Linked DNA regions of Homo sapiens: region 1 is linked to region 2. The links come from fine-mapping of genetic effects on gene expression. A gene starts in region 2. The other region holds a variant in brackets. All regions are shown on one strand. Distances are from middle to middle.

Region 1 (2,905 bases), 120 kb after region 2:
CTATTCCCTCTCTGGTTTTTACACAGCATGGTAGCAAGGGTTGGGGGTCAAATGTCTTGAGCCAGTGTTCCATGAGGCTCCATTTCCTTGGTCCAGGATATGCCACGATGTTTGTAACATGGAGCTAACTTTGCAGTTGCCAACCTAGAGTGGAGTTTTCTCCTGGAGGGTGAGGGTGAGGATGTTGTTGAGGAAAGGGGAGCTGGCTGTGGTGGGAAGAGTGTGGGTGTGGGAGACAGACCCCTAGGTGGCCTCCATGACTCTCACCCCTGTGCTGACCCTTTGGTGTGGTCCTCTACCTCTCCAGAGTAGAGGGTGGGTGGGAGCTATTTTAACAATAGAATATGGCAAAGGTGAGGGTGTGTCACTCCCATGATCATGCTAGATGGATTTGTATATGTGCATGTATGTGTGTATACGTGTGCATGTATGTGTGTATACGTGTGCATGTACATGTGACTCTGTCCTGCTAGCATACACTAACAAGAGATTCTCCTTGCTGGCTCAATGAAGTTAGCAGCTAGGTAAGGTGCCCCCATGGCAAGGAGCTGCGGGCAGCCTCAAGAAACTGGGTGGCCTCTTAGGACCTGAGGGCAGCCTCCAACAAGCAAGCAGCAAACCTCTGGGGCCTTCTGTTCTACAACTGCAAGGAAATAAATTCTGCCAACAGCCTGAATGAGCACGGAAGTGAACTCTTTCTCAGTCGAGCCTCTGAATGAGAACACAGTTCAACTCATGCCTTGACTGCAGCTTGTGAGAGTCTGAGAAGAGGACCAGGTAAGCGGTGCCCAGACTCCTGCCAAGGGAAACTGTGATATGTGTGTGGTTTTCAGCCACTGATTTTGTGGTCACTTGTTACGCAGCAATAGAAAACCAAACCAACAGACTTTGAAGAATGAAAGACTTGGGTGTGATTTCTGCTCTACTTACCAGTTGTGTGACCTTGCATGAGTCACATCACCACACTGAGCTCCAGTTTTCTCATCTACAAATGGGTGCAGACTTGGGAGAATTAGAGATAATAAATAGAAAGCACCTAACATGGGGCCTGGCACAGAGTAGGTGCTCAATAAATAGTAGTTAAGAGTTACCCTGATTTTTAATTTTCGTCATTCATTTTTCTAAATTTTCAATAATGATCATGAATTACCTTGATAAACAGAAAGAACAATTTTGCTTAAAATAAGAAGGAAATGGGCTTGTCTAAGGTCACATAGCTAGTCAGCAGTAGAGCCAAATGAGAGATCCTAAGCCTCCTAGGCCAGATCTTTTCCCAGAACAACTCCTTCCTTATCTATGGAATAACAATAACAGCAACAGCAACAATTACCCTAAGAGCCAGGCAGCTCCCCTGGACCAAACCTGCAAGGTGGTATAGTTATCCCCATTTTACAGATAGAGAAGCTGGGGCCAAAGTCCCACAGCTGGCAAGTGGCAGAGCTGGGATTTGCCTTCTGGAGCTGGAAGAAACCACCTAGTCCACAACATCCAAACTTGGCCTGGATTCTCCTTCCCCAGACCCCCTTGGAGGTGGCATGGGGGACACCTGGGCTTTCTGGAATGAGGCAAAGGCAAGGAAATCAGCAGTGAGACCTCGCCCAGATCCCATTACGCCAGGCAAGATCGCGTTTCCCCTGTTCTGGTGCCATAAGCAGGGCAGAGGAGCGGGCAGGCAGCCACTTTCCTGGTTATTCAAGTAGAAAATTACAGGTGCCCAAAATAGCCTGGGCATTCTTTTATTAATGAATAAGCAGTGAGT[T/C]GGCAGAGCTGGAATGGGGCTTTGCATGCATCTCTTTCCCCTGGACACCTTCCTGAGATCTGCAGGGACTCTTGGCTCTCAGAGGGGACTTTCTCAGGAGTTGGGGGAGCTGGCAGGATTGGGGTGGGAGCATTTTCAGGGCCTGGTCATGGGAAAGGGGACAAGGAGGCCCCATGATGCAGGAGCTGGAAATGGCCCCAGTGCTGAGGGATGGGGTTCCCAGCAGATGCAGGTGAAGAGATGGCAGGTATAGGTCCATCCCAGCCACTCTCTTCTGGCTGTGTGGTCTTGGGCAAATGGCGTAACGTGTCTGGGCCTTCATTTCTTTTTCTGTAAAATGAGGTAAATCATAAATTTACAGAAATGTTTGTTTTCTACTGACTATAAAATTAATTGTAGACAATGTAGGCAATGCTCACTGTAGACAATGTAGAAAGTGGAAAAAAATACAAAAGTGACCATGATATCTCCCCTCCTCACCCCATTGCCCCTTCCTCAATTAAGATAATTAGCATTAATGTTTGGTATTTATTTTTCTAGTCTTCTTCTTATACACATATGAAAAAATGGCTGGTACAGCTTAGTGCCTGAGCTGCTATGCTCTAAAAATGGAACCATCACTTACAGTCAACAAATATTAGTCAGTCAACAAACACTGTGAGCACTGCCCTAGGCCCTAGGGTGGCATGGAGGAAGGTTTCCCCCAACATCTCCTACAGCCGCTTTTTGTTTTTCAAGACCTCTGGCAATGACTTCGCTGAGTCCTCAGAGCCACCTAGGGGGTCGTGGAGGAGGGAAAGTCATTTTTTGGGTTCCTCACATGGATATGGGACCAAAGTCGGGGCCCAGAATCCCCCCATGAGGCCATCTGTGACCTCTTCCTACAGCAGGTCTTGTACACATGGGTTGGCCTAGGCATGGCTTCTTGACCCCTGTCTCCTCCCTAGAGGGTCGGGGCAGGAGGCAGCTGTTCTCTTCTGGGGTTATTTCTTGGCTGGTTAATATGTAAAGTGCTTAGAATGGCACTTGGCATACAGTGTGCAGGAAGTGCACATTACTGACAAGATGGCCAGCACATCATGATCATTACTAGTTGCAGATAGGCCGTGTGAGGCCATTCCCTTCTGGAGACTGATTTGTAATGGA
Region 2 (2,905 bases):
TCTATTAAAAAACAACAAAACCCAGTGGGGTGGGGAGGAGTGGGGGGCAAAAAAAAAAAAAAAGAAAAACCAAACCAAAACTCATTGTATTTTTCTGATTATAAATTCAATATTTATGTGTTCTGATTATAAATTCAATATTCATGAAAATTCAGAAGAACGTTATGAAGTAATGCCATTAACATTCCCATACTGTTATCTTGAACACGATGGTCAATGGTTTGATGTATTTCCTTCAAAATTTTTGTCTGTATATATTTATGTTTTTAAAAATAAAATCAGGATATCATGTGTACTAGTTTGTGTATTGATCATTTTCACACACATTTCCCTGTATTCTCACCTAGTCTTTGTGAATTTGATAATGTAGCACTCAGTTATGTTGATGAAGCATATGTCATTTATTTAACCTATCAATTTGAGCTTTTGGAGACAAATCAAGTATCAGATATAACTGTGATGATCATGCTGATACAATTTCAACCCCAGAGCTAGCTCACACACATGCAGACGTGAAACCCAAGTGAGTTTCTAAGGCCAGTGGTTATTCTGGTGGAGAAGGTTAAACCCAGCATCAGGTAACTGGTCCCACCGGAAGGGGACAGTGGCCTGGCTAGCAGGAAGTGAATGGACTTGGAACGAGTGGACGGATGGAGACCAATTAGCCCTGAGGCGTTAGGTGCTGCCCATCCTCTGCAGCCTTGGCTTCCTTCCTGGTGAAGTGGGGACAATACCAGCGCCAGTCTCATCTAGGGTCGAGCTCCTCCAGGCCCCAGAGCCTTTGCATGGGTCGTTTTGTCTGCTGAAGGTAGCTCTGCCCTTCTCTCCACCTGGCTGCCCGTGTTGCTGAGCTTCTGGGCCCAGCAGCCCTTTGCTGTCTTGCCCGTCAGGCCGGACCAGACCGTCTTGCCCCGGTGGCCCCGGGGGCTTCTTCACAGGCCTCATCGCAGGGTTGTCTCCCCAATGCAGGGCAGGCAGGAGGAGCTCTGGCCGCAGGTCGGGGTCCAGGTCTTCCTCGGCCACTGCGTTTGGAGCAGGGGCTCCCTTCCCTTCTTCTCCATCTAAGTCCTCTAATCATGTCCCTCCCAACACTTACGGCCATAACTTGTCATTATTTTGTCTATTAGCTGTTTCCTTGAGTCTTGTCTGTCTTCTCCTTTGATTAGGACCCGCCTCCGTCTTGGTGGCCGCTGTATCTCCTAAACCCCCAGGCCTGAGATATAGTGGGGGGCCCATACAAGTTCGTGAAATGACTAAGGAGAAACAGCTGTGGAGGCACCACCCCTGAGGACGCAGTGGGCCTGGGGTTGGGCGGACCCCAGGCTGCGGGCGGAGGCGGGACGTAGGGGCGGGGTTTCGGGGCTTCGGAGCGGAGCCTAAGGGGCGGGACTGGGGCTTCGGGGCGGGGCTTCGGGGCTGCGGTCGTGTGGTCTTGACCGCGCGGCTCCGACTGCGCTGGCTGAGTTCCTCAGGCCGCCCGCTCTCTGGCTTCCAGCCCGCGCTGCCGTTAGGGGGCGCCCGCGCTCGTGGCGCCGCGGCTCTGCTGGGAAGGCGCCGCCCGCGCCGGGCAGCTGGAGCCGCAACTCCGGGCGCGGGCTCAGTCGTCCCCTCTGCCGCCGCCGCCGCCGCCGTCGCCGGGCGCGGGCTCGCTTGTCCCCGCGCTCGCGCTCTCCGGCCGCGGGCATCTCCCGGCCCGGCCGCAGCAGCCGCCGCCGCCGCGCAGTGAGTGGGGCTGGCGCGGGGCTTGCGGGGCCGGGGTTTGGGAGGGCCGGGTTTCAGGAGACGTCTGCGCCGAGCGGCCAGGGGAGCGGGGCTGAGGAGGATCTGGGCGGGGGCTCCTGGAACGGGGCGGCGGCGGGGCCGCGTTGAGGGGACCGCGCGTCCCGGGCTGGCACGAGCCAGCAGCGGAGGTGCCCGCGGCGGGGCCTGGGCGGGGGTTCCGGGGCCCGCCCGGCGGGGATGCGCGGTTTCTGCGGGCCCGGGTTCGGAGCCCCGCGGCGCGCCCCTCGTCCGGGCCCGGAGCATCGCCCGCCCTACCCCTGGCCGGGTCGGGTTGCGGGGGCTTCGCTGGCGGGGCAGCAGCGAAGGGCGGCCCGGACGGAGATATTTGGGGTGTGCTCGAAAATGATTGTTTTTGGGAGATGGCGCTTATTAGCCACCAATTGCCCTAGTTTAAAGCTTGAGGCAGGACTCAAAACCCTGCCTTTGGGATTTTCTGCCCTGAAGAGACTCTCAGATCGCAGCTGAGTTCTTTATGCCTAGATTTGTGTGTGTGTGGTGGCGTTTTTAATGCTTGATGTCAGAGGTGATAAATGGCCATGGTAATGGGGAGCCCTGGCAGCACCTGCTGGGCTGACAGTGGTGGAGGCTGTGTCTGGGGGTGGGACGGGGAAATGAAACGTGACAGAGATCCTGTTTGGATATTCTGCCGAAGTTACCATGTTTCTGTTCAAGTATACCAGTTCTAGAACAAGTTGATGGATCCAATTTTAGGACTTTGTGATAGAAGAGGTTTGGGTGGCAAAGTGACCTGGGATGACCCGGCTCGGCTAAGAATATTTGGGGTAGCCTAAGTATCTCTTCTATATCCCCCTGGCATGTTCTTTTTTTCGCTGTCACAAATGCCCTATTACTTGAATCATCCTGGGATAGGAGAGAAGCTTGGGGACAGCATGTAGCACAGTCCTGAGCCCAAGATTGAGATGTTTTCAAATGAACGAATATGTAGCTAGGAAAAGGAAAATGTGTTTGTCAGCAGGGTTGGTAGGTTGAGAGTATTTTCTCTTTGGCCGAAACCATCAGTCCATACTGATACTTGATTTTGTGCTATGCCTTAGATATGAACGATGGAGTGGTCAGGATAGCCATGGATGCCATTCCAAAGTTTTGTGATTTGAATTTTCAT

What was found. PIP is the estimated chance that this variant, and not a neighbour inherited with it, causes the effect.
Region 1: its variant is fine-mapped to the expression of KCTD6 in cerebellum (GTEx, PIP above 0.99).

The regions. Positions count from the first base shown.
Region 1 is chr3:58,607,169-58,610,073 of GRCh38, forward strand. It overlaps FAM3D-AS1 (FAM3D antisense RNA 1), which reads left to right. Exons shown (of 4, transcript NR_134853.1): 2 at 514-777. It also overlaps a transcript of FAM107A not described here. Among named protein-coding and RNA genes, the nearest start is that of FAM3D-AS1, 1.5 kb to the left of the region's middle. The variant T/C (reference allele first, on the strand shown) is at 1,760.
Region 2 is chr3:58,490,448-58,493,352 of GRCh38, forward strand. It overlaps KCTD6 (potassium channel tetramerization domain containing 6), which reads left to right and starts at 1,649. Exons shown (of 3, transcript NM_001128214.2): 1 at 1,649-1,722. RefSeq lists a silencer at 1,300-1,949.